Linked DNA regions of Homo sapiens. The protein of the gene in region 1 purifies or fractionates together with the protein of each later gene. This does not show direct contact. Each region holds a gene or a part of one and is shown on either strand. Other genes may lie near its edges.

Evidence for each region.
Region 2: the proteins of SULT1A4 (region 1) and MPPED2 purify together in Homo sapiens (co-immunoprecipitation; one large-scale study listed by IntAct). This does not show direct contact.
Region 3: the proteins of SULT1A4 (region 1) and ULK4 fractionate together in Homo sapiens (co-fractionation; one large-scale study listed by BioGRID). This does not show direct contact.

The regions. Positions count from the first base shown.
Region 1 is NC_000016.10:29,458,352-29,462,101, reverse strand, and holds the start of SULT1A4 (sulfotransferase 1A4), read right to left. Parts: upstream 2,190-3,750; 5' UTR 2,117-2,189; intron 721-2,116; 5' UTR 717-720; coding exon 569-716; intron 465-568; coding exon 339-464; intron 250-338; coding exon 152-249; intron 1-151. UniProt on the Homo sapiens protein: Sulfotransferase that utilizes 3'-phospho-5'-adenylyl sulfate (PAPS) as sulfonate donor to catalyze the sulfate conjugation of phenolic monoamines (neurotransmitters such as dopamine, (R)-adrenaline/epinephrine, (R)-noradrenaline/norepinephrine and serotonin) and phenolic and catechol drugs.
Region 2 is NC_000011.10:30,495,764-30,499,413, forward strand, and holds part of MPPED2 (metallophosphoesterase MPPED2), read right to left. Parts: intron 1-3,650. UniProt on the Homo sapiens protein: Displays low metallophosphoesterase activity (in vitro). May play a role in the development of the nervous system.
Region 3 is NC_000003.12:41,899,532-41,903,181, forward strand, and holds part of ULK4 (serine/threonine-protein kinase ULK4), read right to left. Parts: intron 1,299-3,650; coding exon 1,194-1,298; intron 1-1,193. UniProt on the Homo sapiens protein: May be involved in the remodeling of cytoskeletal components, such as alpha-tubulin, and in this way regulates neurite branching and elongation, as well as cell motility.

The DNA.
Region 1 (3,750 bases):
TACCAGGTTGTTAATTTTATTTTTGTAGAGATGGGATGTCATCTCTACAGCAATGTTGCCCAGGCTGGTCTCCATCTCTCGCCTTCAAGGGATCCTCCCTCCTCAGTCTCAAACTGGGATGACAGGTGTGAACCATTGAGCCCGGCCTCACCTTGACCTTCTGATCCAACAGAGTCTGAGGGAGCAGAGCCAGGGGCAGGTGTGACTTGATGAGCCGTGGGGGCGGTGTGTCTTTCAGAGTCTCCAGCCCTGAGTAGTGGGTCAGGGAAGGTCTGGTGAGCTGAAGCCCCAGCCCTGTCTTCCTCCACTTCCCTTACCCCCAGGACCCAGCCATGCACCTGAGGGTTCCCCTGGATCATTGACCTCAAGGAAGGGCACCCGTACGTAGATGGGAGCCCGGTTACACTTCTCTAGGTCGCCGCCCTGGTAGATCATGTCCAGTATCTGGCTCACCCAGGTGGTGCCTGGAGAGGGAGGGAGATAGGAGGTGAGCAGGCTGAGGGCACGACCTTGCTGACCAAGGTGGGGACTGCCGCCTGGGAGAGGGTGGGTGGCCCTCCTCACTTACCAGACTTGGGGTAGGTGTTGATGAGCAGGTCATCAGGTCGGGCTTGGAAGCTCTGCAGGGGCCCCAGTGCCTCTGCAAAGTACTTGATGAGCGGGACCCCCTTCACGTACTCCAGTGGCGGGCGGGAGGTGTCCTGGATCAGCTCCATGTTCCTGCATCAGGGGCCAGAGCCAGGCCCGTTCCCTTACCACCATCACAACAGCAAGAAAGTGGGATTCTCTCTTTTTTTTTTTTTTTTTGAGATGGAGTCTCACTCTCACCCAAGCTGGAGTGCAGTGTGGCACAATCTCAGCTCACTGCAAACTCCACCTCTTGGGTTCAAGCAATCCTCCCGCCTCGGCATCCCAAGTAGCTGGGATTACAAGCATGTACAACCATGCTCAGCTAATTTTTTTTTTTCTTTAGTAGAGATGGGGTTTCACCATGTTGGCCAGGCTGGTCTAGAACTCCTGGCCTCAAGTGATTTGTCTACCTCAGCCTCCCAAAGTGCTGGGATTACAGGTGTGAGCCAGCACCCAGCTGCCCCTTTGCAGAGTTTTTGCTTTCAGGGAAGTCACTGAGGCCTAGGGAGGCTGAGTGACTTGCCCGCACTCACAAAGTCAGTCAGTGGCGGGGCTGGGGCTGAAACCAGGTCGTTCCCCAGCCTGGCCGCACCTTTCAGTCACCTGCAGAGCTGTTCAAAATCCCAGGGCCTGGGGCATAGTGCAGACCAGTGAAAGCACCCTCGTAGCGCGGGGCCCAGATATCAGGGTGTGTGAAGGTCTCCAGGAGAGTCCAGCTGTGCTGAGGAAGCTCTAGGGCCTGCCTGTGCTGTCTCCCTGCCAGCCAGCGCCCTTTGTCTCACCATTTCCTGCTGGGACCCCCAGCCTCCACCCAGTGCGCTCCTCTCCCCGATGCTCCCCTCCTTGAGCCCCCCTCATGCCCCTCACATGTGGAAACCTCCCAGGCCGGCCAGGTCTGTGATCCACTTGCCTGGCCACAGTCCATCTGGGCTCCAGAACAAACACAGCCCATTGAGCAACTAAGCTGGTACCAGGGGCTAGAGCCTCGTGCGGGAATGAAAACTGATGACTCATCAAAAGGAGGGGCCCAGGCAGGGTGACTCCCGCCTGTAATCCCAGAGCCTTGGGAGGCCAACGGGAAAGGATCCCTTGAGCCCTGGAGTTTGAGACCAACCTGGACAACAAAGCAAGACCTCTCCTCTACAAAAAATATTTTTCAAAATTAGCTGGGTGTGGTGGCTTGCTCTTGTAACCCCAGCTACTCAGGAGGCTGAGGCGGCAGGATTGCCTCAGCCTAGGAATTTGAGGCTGCAGTGGGCCAGGATCCCACTACACTCCAGCCTGGGTGACGGAGCAACACCCTGTCTCAAAAATACACAAAGGAAAAGAAGGAACGCAGGGGGATTCCGGCCAGGCTGGGTTGTCTAATTGAAATGGAATATCCATGGGAAAGGGCAGGGATGGCAGAGGCCTCGGCTTCTAGAATGTTGGAGCCACAAGCTGAGCAGGGTGAAGGTGCCCTGGGCCATTCCAACGTGTCACTCACCTGAGCTCTCGGGAACCTGACCTGTTCTCTCCTTGCCTGCAGGGGCTGAGTATGGGTGTGGTGTAGGGAGTGTAGGGCTGCTCTCTGCCCTGAGGGTTTTGAAGGTCCAGTGTGGGAGGGATCTAAAGTCAGGGCTGGGAACTCCAGGAAGGAAGGGGTGGGGTTGAGGGTGGGGAAGCTTCTCTATTACCCTCCTTACCACCACAGCTCCAGCCAAGCTTGGAGTGATCTGCAAACCCAATATGTGAGTTTAGTGTATAGAAAACACATGAATGAAAGGCAAAAGGGGCCAACATTGGTATTTGGGTTTTTTTTTTTTTGAGCTGTCACTAGGCTCCTGACCTTCCCTCTGAACTCCACCCTGCAGGGCAGGCCAACAGACAAGCTTTCTTTCTTTCTTTTTCTTTTTTTTATATGAGATGGAGACTCGCTCTCTCGCCCAGGCTGCAATGCAGTAGCACGATCTCCGCTCACTGTAACCTCCCCCTCCTGGGTTCAAGCGATTCTTCTGCCTCAGCCTCCCGAGTAGCTGGGATTACAGGTGCACACCACCACATCCGGTTAATTTTTGTATTTTTAGTAGAGACGGGGTTTTGCCATGTTGGCCAGGCTGGTCTCAAACTCCTGAGCTCAGATGATCCGCCCGCCTCGGCCTCCCAAAGTGCTGAGATTACAGGCATGAGCCACCATGCCTGGCCGACAAGCTTTCTCTAATTGACCCAGGCAAGGGAGGTGAGTGAGTGGAGGGGAAAGGTGGGATAGGCCGGCCTGGGAAAAGTCACCTACCTGCTGGCTACAGGCCAGTCTTGAAGGCGGCAGGGGTTCTGGCCCAGTGCAGTCCACAGGCCCCCAGCAGCCCAGGCATTCCAGGCTCTGACCACAAGGCCAGTCTGGAGTGATGTGTGGGGGCAGAGTGAAGGGGCAGAAGTGGAGCAGAGCATGGACATATAGAACAAGAAAGAGGCTGAGCGTGGTGGCTCACGCCTGTAATCCCAGTACTTTGGGAGGTCGATGCAGCAGGATCACCTGAGGTCAGGAGTTCGAGACCAAGCTGGCCAACATGGTGAAACCCTGTCTCTACTAAAAATACAAAAATTAGCTGGGCATGATGGCGGGCACCTGTAATCCTAGCTACTCAGGAGGCTGAGGCAAGAGAATCACTTGAACCCAGGAGGCGGAGGTTTCAGTGAGCCAAGATCACACCACTGCACTCCAGCCTGGGCAACAGAGTGAGACTCTGTCTCAAAAAAAAAAAAAAAAAAAAAAAAAGAAAGAAAGAAAGAACAGAAAGAATAAGAAAGGACAAGGACACTGTAGTCCCATTGCCCTAGGAGCCAGCCCTAGCTTCATGGCTCCTGGGGGACCTCACAGAGCATCAATAGAAGATCCTAGAAGAAAAACAACCCTGGCAGGTGCTTTTCTTTCCCTGGGTTTGAAGGAGGCTCCGTAGACAAGAGACTAGAGGAGATTAAGACTTGGAAGCCACAGGGCCCCGTGGAAGGAGGGCATCCCCCCATCCTCCTTGGTCTTTGTCCTATTTGCATTCAATTTCAAGGTAAGTCTCCCAGGCTTCCAAGAATTGCATGAGCTCAGAGGCAAGTAGGGGAAAGCTGAGGCATGGGGTTTCCAGGCAG
Region 2 (3,650 bases), on another chromosome or scaffold:
ATTTCCCTCTTCTGTATGCTATGTATTCATTGTGATGAATCCACAGGGTAATGAATCCACACTTTATATTTATCCAGTAAAAAGCTCTTTAATCACGATCCTTAAGAGAAGGTCTGTACCTAGTTTGGTCCTCAAAACATAATCTAACCAACTATTCTTAACAACTTAGATAACTACTAGATTTTTAGTATATGCTTCATACTAAAGACATGGCATAGTCAAACATTCCATAATTGACATACATTAAAGGAACCAGATAGTATAATTTCATATTTCAACTCTAATTTTAAGTTTCCTTTTTGGGTTGTGAATAAAAAGAACATTAGTAAGGGCCCCCTGATTAGAAGGCTAACTTTCCTCCTATTGGGATGGGAGAAGAAACTGTAAAGTTTAACCCTCTTTTAATATTTATGGTATGGAAATGTGAGTTCTCAGTGTGTGCTTTTTATGCAAAAGTTTCCTGATCAAAATGAGATAATTCTGGGAAGAAGAATGAAAGCTATAAAGGAAAACCCAAACACCAGACTTCTGCATAGATTTATAATGTTTGAATAAAGTACGGGTCATACATATTAATAACTCACCGTGATGCTATAAGAACGAAAATCCAAAGGGAGATAGTGCCGGGCAGCTGTCCCCACCTGAAATTAATGTTCTTTTCCTTACTCTGTCACTACCCATCCCTCAAGCCTCACTGTTCATCTGCTGCTTTTTATTTTATTTTATTTTGGAGGAAAAAAAGAGTGGGACAATGGCACCTATAATTCCAGCTTTCTGAGACCTATGGGTCTGATGTGAAATTAATGTTTCCTGCTATTCCAGGAAGAATTAAAGTTACCACTAGCAGGAAATTGGATACACTTGTTGTAAGAACTGGTCCTTACCAGCAAGCCAGAGTCTCAATGATTTCATTAAGGAAACTTAGTGGGGAAGAGAATTTTGTGGGCGGGGGGTGGGGGGAGGTGAGGGGAGCAAGTTCCATCGTCAGTCCACTTGGATTTCAGCAATTCAAACTGTAAAGATTACATTGTGAAGTCCACACAGTCTCAGCAGCACATCACAAACATATTTGCTAATATTGAAGCAGTTTTTAAGACTGCCAAACCATGTTTTGTATATTACTGCCTTTTCTTTAGTTATTAATTGTTAGATTTCTGACAATAATAAAATTGCATATATAGCAAGGGCAATAATGGGGAGGCTTAAGAGAGAGATGAAAGCAGTCTGATAGAAAATAACACTGCAGAGAGAGGAAACCAGAAACGCTGAGGCCAAGCAGCAATGGATATCTTTGACTACTAGCCCACAGTGCTGTATGTCACGTCTTTGGCCTCAGTTATTTGTAAGGCTATGCTGAAGAGTTCAAAAAAGAATAGGAAGCCTCCCTCAAATGCATGTTTATGCGAATTTGGTAATTAAGAGTATGATGTACATAGCAAGTTGTTTGGATAGAATGGTGGTATCTTGCACAATTCCAGAACTTCAAGTGCAGATGAAAGATATATCAATAGGGCCACAAATTCCCAGTACTGCACATGCTGGAAATTTGTGAGAGACCCTACAACTCTAATATCATGGCTCTGTGACCCTATGAGTCTAATAGTGCTCCCCGCCCCAATTCACCTGTGCTCCCAAAGCCGGAACAGGCTAAAACGTTTTCCCAGACAGCAATGTCTTCCAAGGCCGGTCCTTACTGTGTGATTCTTAGAGCAGAAGATTTTACCTGTACAAGTCACACTGTAGTTGCCCAGTTCCCCTTTAATCATTCACGATGATGGGACTCACTGTAAACCCTTTCATTATGTGCCACCGCTCTTGCAGGAAGCCTGGGTTTCTCAATTTATCCTCGTTTTAGGGCTCGGGTTCAGGGACAGCGTGGGTGAGACTAGCCACTATGGCAAAGGAAGTATATTTTCCCCCTTCAGACTGGGTTTTTCCTTTCTTTCTTTCTTTCTTTCTTTTTAGTAAAACTGCTGCAAAGTAAATCTTTCTCAGAAAGACAAGCATCTTTGGTGTCTTTTAAATCAAATTTTGGAGACTCAGCATAAAAAGGTAGCCACCAAAATGAAGAGCCACAAAAAAGGTGATGATATTTACACATCACCAACAAACTCATCTTTTTCCGAGAATCCAGTAGTAGCTTCCAACTTCTATCCTCTGTTACCGATGTTATGAGATTGTCTGACATATTTTCTTTTTTGCTGAACTGACCTTTCATCTATAATCTGCCAACCTTTATGTTTTATATGAAAAGTGTAAACAGGGCAGCTGACAAATCTCCTGTTACTTGACGGCATTTTCGTTGTTTTTTTTTTTCCAGACTAGATTAATTGGGAAGGCCCTGCAGTCAAGCTTCAAACTTCTTGGTATTCAAATAGCAACACTTTAAAATTGTCAGGCAAAGAGGTGCCTGCCTTTTTCCATTTTATTCAGATCATGCCAGCTAAGCTGACCTGCTTGTATAAAAAAAACCAAGGCCATATATATACTCTAACATGGAAAAAAAATCCTTGCTCTGAATGACCCAAAGAACTCTACCAGCCGGGCACGGTGGCTCACACCCGGAATCCCAGCACTTTGGGAGGTCAAGACAGGCAGATCACCTGAGGTCAGGAGTTTGAGACCAGCCTGGCCAATGTGATAAAACCCTATCTCTACTAAAAATACAAAAATTAGCCGGGTGTGGTAGCAGGAGAATTGCTTGAACCCCGGAGGTGCAGGTTGCTGTGAGCCGAGATTGAACCACTGTACTCCAGCCTGGGTGACAAGAGCAAAACTTGTCTCAAAAAAAAAAAAAAAAAGAACGCTACCAACCAACCAGTTTCATCGTTCCCAAGGCATGGTCTATGTTCTACTAATGGTACACAAGATTATTTTAGGTGAAATGGAAAGGAACCTTTGACAAAATGTCAAATAGTTTTGTATTTTAAAACTACTTTTAAGAATGCATTGTTTGGACAAATACAATATAAAAGTATAAGTAATGATATATAGCTTCCTTTTTTCTATCTTTATATGTAAAATAAGAGGTAATTTCAAGAAAATTACTGAGCAAATAGTAGAGGTAACTTACAGGGACAATAAAGTGACAATGGTAGGAAGTGAATTAATGAGATGTGGAAAACTTGCTCATCAGTTCAGGTTAGAGCTACAGAATGTAAGTGAGACCATAAAAGAGGCAGTTATTTGAGTTTTATCTATTCTGTATCTTCTGCACTTAGTGGTGTCACATAAGTAGATACTCATGAACTGAAAGTCAACAGGGTCCTCGCTGCTACTTGACGTTCTAAGTGCCCCACACTCCAGCCACTACCTCCCCAAAGCAGCCATCACAAAATTTGTCCAGGTTCCTCTCTAGCTCCCAGGCTCCAACTGAGCCCCTCTCCAGACATGCAAAATACCCTCTAACCACATGTGTACAGAAGGAGGGAGGTTCTCTTCACTTCTGCCTTTTCACTTTCCCATCACACCATCTGTTTGCATCTTCTTATCTTTCTAACAGAGGTTGAGCATCCTTTATCTGAAATGCTTGTGACCAGAATCATTTAGGATTTTGGATTTTTTCAGATTTTGGAATATTTGTGTTACACTGATTGAACATTCCAAATCCCAAAATCCAAAATCTGAAATGCTCCAATGAACATTTTCAC
Region 3 (3,650 bases), on another chromosome or scaffold:
ATGCAGCCCAAGACGGCTTTGAAAGTGGCCCAACACAAATTTGTAAACCTTCTTAAAACATTGTAAGATTTTTTTTTGCAATTTTTTTTGTTTTTTAGTTCATCAGCTATCGTTAGTGTATTTTATGTGTGCCCCAAGACAATTCTTCTTCCAATGTGGCCCAGGGAAGCCAAAAGATTGGACACCCCTGGTAAAGATAACACAAATTGTTCTAGAAAGCCCACGTTGAAAATGCCCCAATGCTCATCAAACTTAGCATAATAAAGTTACTCTGCCAGACATATGAACTCACAAAAAGAAGTAGCTCCATTATGAAAAATAGCTAAATAATCTATATGAAATGCTGTCTATCTAGAAAATAAATAAGAATTCAAGAACCTTCATGGTCTAAACCACAGTAACGTTCCCAATGAGATAAGAAAAAAGAGTCATGAATTAATACAGAAAAAAACATTTATAAATAAGAAAAAGAAGCAGGAAAATTAAAATAGAGAAAAAGTAGTGGAATGTGAGTATGTTGGGGAGCTGGAAGTCAAGACAAAACAGAGGGACTTAGAAATGAATTTGTTTTTTAAAGTAGATACTCATTATCCCCTAGCAATAAAGTATTATATTCCAAAAGACAAGAAGCAAAAAAACTCACACTGGTTTAGAAGTACATTGTGAACTACAACTTCGCAAGCTCCCAGAATGTCTCCCCATCGTCTCCCCTGCAGTCTTAACAACCTGTGAGAGGGTAGGGCTTCTGTGTGATCTGCCTGCCCAGCCCAGCCTGGTAAGCAGTGCCCTCTGACTGCTTGTGCCTTCGAAATACATCAGAGACTAGAATATTTAGAGTGATTCACATTAGTGCATACGGAGAAACAAAAGGACTGAGAGCTAAGGTCTGAGGTCAAGAGGCTGGCAACCCCTCCATGGCATGTGGAAGAAGCAGTAGTGAGAGGCAGCAGAGCTGACTCATTCAAAACAGAGGGGAGAAAACTTAGAACTCCAGTGAAGTGGAAGTGAAGGCAGAGGAAAGGGCTGCAGACAGAGGGGGAGCTGCAAATGCAGACATGCAGCACAAATGACACAGAAGCAGACAAGAGAAACAGGAAAGATTATACAGTAAATAATATTCTGAATGAAAATCTCATGCAGATTTCAGATCTCAGTAAAGTCTACAACTCAGTTGTTAGAGTGTCTTTCTGCACCTTTGGATTGTCGATAATGGGGGTGACAACAAGATCTGAGTCCGTGTAGATAAGCTCTCTCATCTGGGATTCCAGGTCCTGCTGACTCAGGTGTCCACTTGTAATCTGAAATGAGAACAAAAATTAGACTTTGTTTCTGCGACTAATGTAGATCTTTAAAACACTGAACCAGTAAGATGCTGAGGAAGACACCACTGTAAAATATCACCTATATCAATGTACTTCAACTGCTATTCAAGATGGTTGCAGTCTCATTTGATTTTCACAAAAATCCTAAACTGTAGGCACCATCATTCCCATTTTACAGATAAAAATATAAAACTCTGAGAAAGTAACTGAATTGCTCATGTTACCACTAAGTCTGGCTAGGACTAGAAAAAATATCTTTACAATTCAATGTTCTAAACTGTGATGAGGCAAATTGGTTTTTCCATAACAGCATGGCTTCTTTTTTTTTTTTTTTTTTTTTTTTTGAGGCGGAGTCTCGCTCTGTCCCCCAGGCTGGAGTACAGTAGCGTGATCTCGGCTCACTACAAGCTCTGCCTCCCGGGTTCACGCCATTCTCCTGCCTCAGCCTCCCGAGTAGCTGGGACTACAGGCGCCTGCCACTGTGCCTGGCTAATTTTTTTGTATTTTTAGTAGAAACAGGGTTTCACCGTGTTAGCCAGGATGGTCTCAATCTCCTGACCTCATGATCCACCTGCCTCGGCCTCCCAAAGTGCTGGGATTACAGGCGTGAGCCACCACGCCCAGCCTTTTTTTTTTTTTTTTTTTGAGATAGAGTCTCACTCCATCACACAGGCTGGAATGCAGTGGCACAATCTCAGCTCACCGCAACCTCTGCCTCCCGAGTTGAAGCAATTCTCCTGCTTCAGCCTCCCAAGTCGTGGAATTACTGGTGTATGCCACCATGCACTGCTAATTTCTGCATTTTTAGTAGAATCGGGGTTTCACCATGTTGGCCAGGCTGGTCTCGAACTCCTGGTCTCAGGTGATCCACCCAACTTGGCCTCCCAAAGTGCTGGGATTATAGGCGTGAGCCACGCGCCTGACCAACGGCTTTATTTTTCATTCACAGAATGTTAATCAATTTATTTCTGCTTTACAGAACATTCAATGTGAAATTGAAGCTGTAACATAAAAAAAATTTTCAGACTTAAATACAGACATGCTACCTAAGTATTAAACCTCAATTATTTATTAAGCCTAGTTAGAGTTGATACATAATGAAATGAATCAGCAGATATTCACCATCAGTTATTCCTTTGAGATGGTTCTTTGTGCTCTATTTAAACATAATTTGTATTCCTAGTGCTATGCCTCAGTATTTCCCAACAGGGAAAAAAAAAAGAGAGAGAGAATTTATGCTTAAGAACTTTAAAAGAAACAACGGCTAGCAAACTAAATAAAATAGAAAAGTAAATCAGTGAAGTAAGGAATAAGGAAAATAAATTACCCAAAACTGAGTGAGGAAGGGGCATGGATAAAGGAACAGAGGAGTTAGCTAAGAAAGTTCCTGGAAACCCAAGCTGCCCCATGCAACTCAGACAAAAGACAAGAAAACACAAAAAGAGGCCGGGTGCAGTGGCTTAGGCCTGTAATCCCAGCACTTTGGTAGGCCGAGGTGGGCACATCACGAGGTCAGGAGTTCGAGACCAGCCTGACCAACATGGTGAAACACCATCTCTACTAAAAATACAAAAATTAGCCAGGCATGGTGGCAGGCGCCTGTAATCCCAGCTACTTAGGGGGCTGAGGCAGGAGAATCGCTTGAACCTGGGAGGCGGAGGTTGCAGTGAGCCGAGATTGCGCCATCGCACACCAGCCTAGGTGACAAAGCGAGACTCCACCAAAAAAAAAAAAGAAAAAAAAAAAAAAGGCCCACAAAGAATGAAGAGGAAGTTTGTTTAAAACAAGAAAATCTAAGTTTAAGAACATGGACTTTCAATTAAAGAAAAAAAAAGATGGACTTTCATGGTAAAAAGACAGAGGTAAACTCACATTGCCAAAAAAAAGATGGACTTTAAAGGCAAAAAGACAGGGGCAAACTTAACATTGCTGCTTGTTAATTATGTGCTCTTAGGGAAGATAAAAAAAGCTTTGTTTTCTTCATCTATAACAAAGATTAAAACAAACAAGCTTTCAGGTTTGTGAAGAATAAACACAAAGCACTTAAAACAATGCCTGGCACTGCTTGAGAGAAGACAGTGATAGTTAATGAAGACACTTAAATATATACATCATACTTGCTTCAGTGGAGAATGGATGGAGGGGAGCAATGGAGAACTGAGGGGACCAGTTAGCAGGTTACTGCAAAGCCTGGATGGAAAGGATGGTGTCTTGAGTGAGGAAGGGGGCAGAAGGAAAGAAAAGAAGTCAATGATAGAGCAAAGGGCTGGATATCCCTGCTGATTTAACACTGAGGAGGAACTGCTAGTAAATTATATTGGTCCGTAA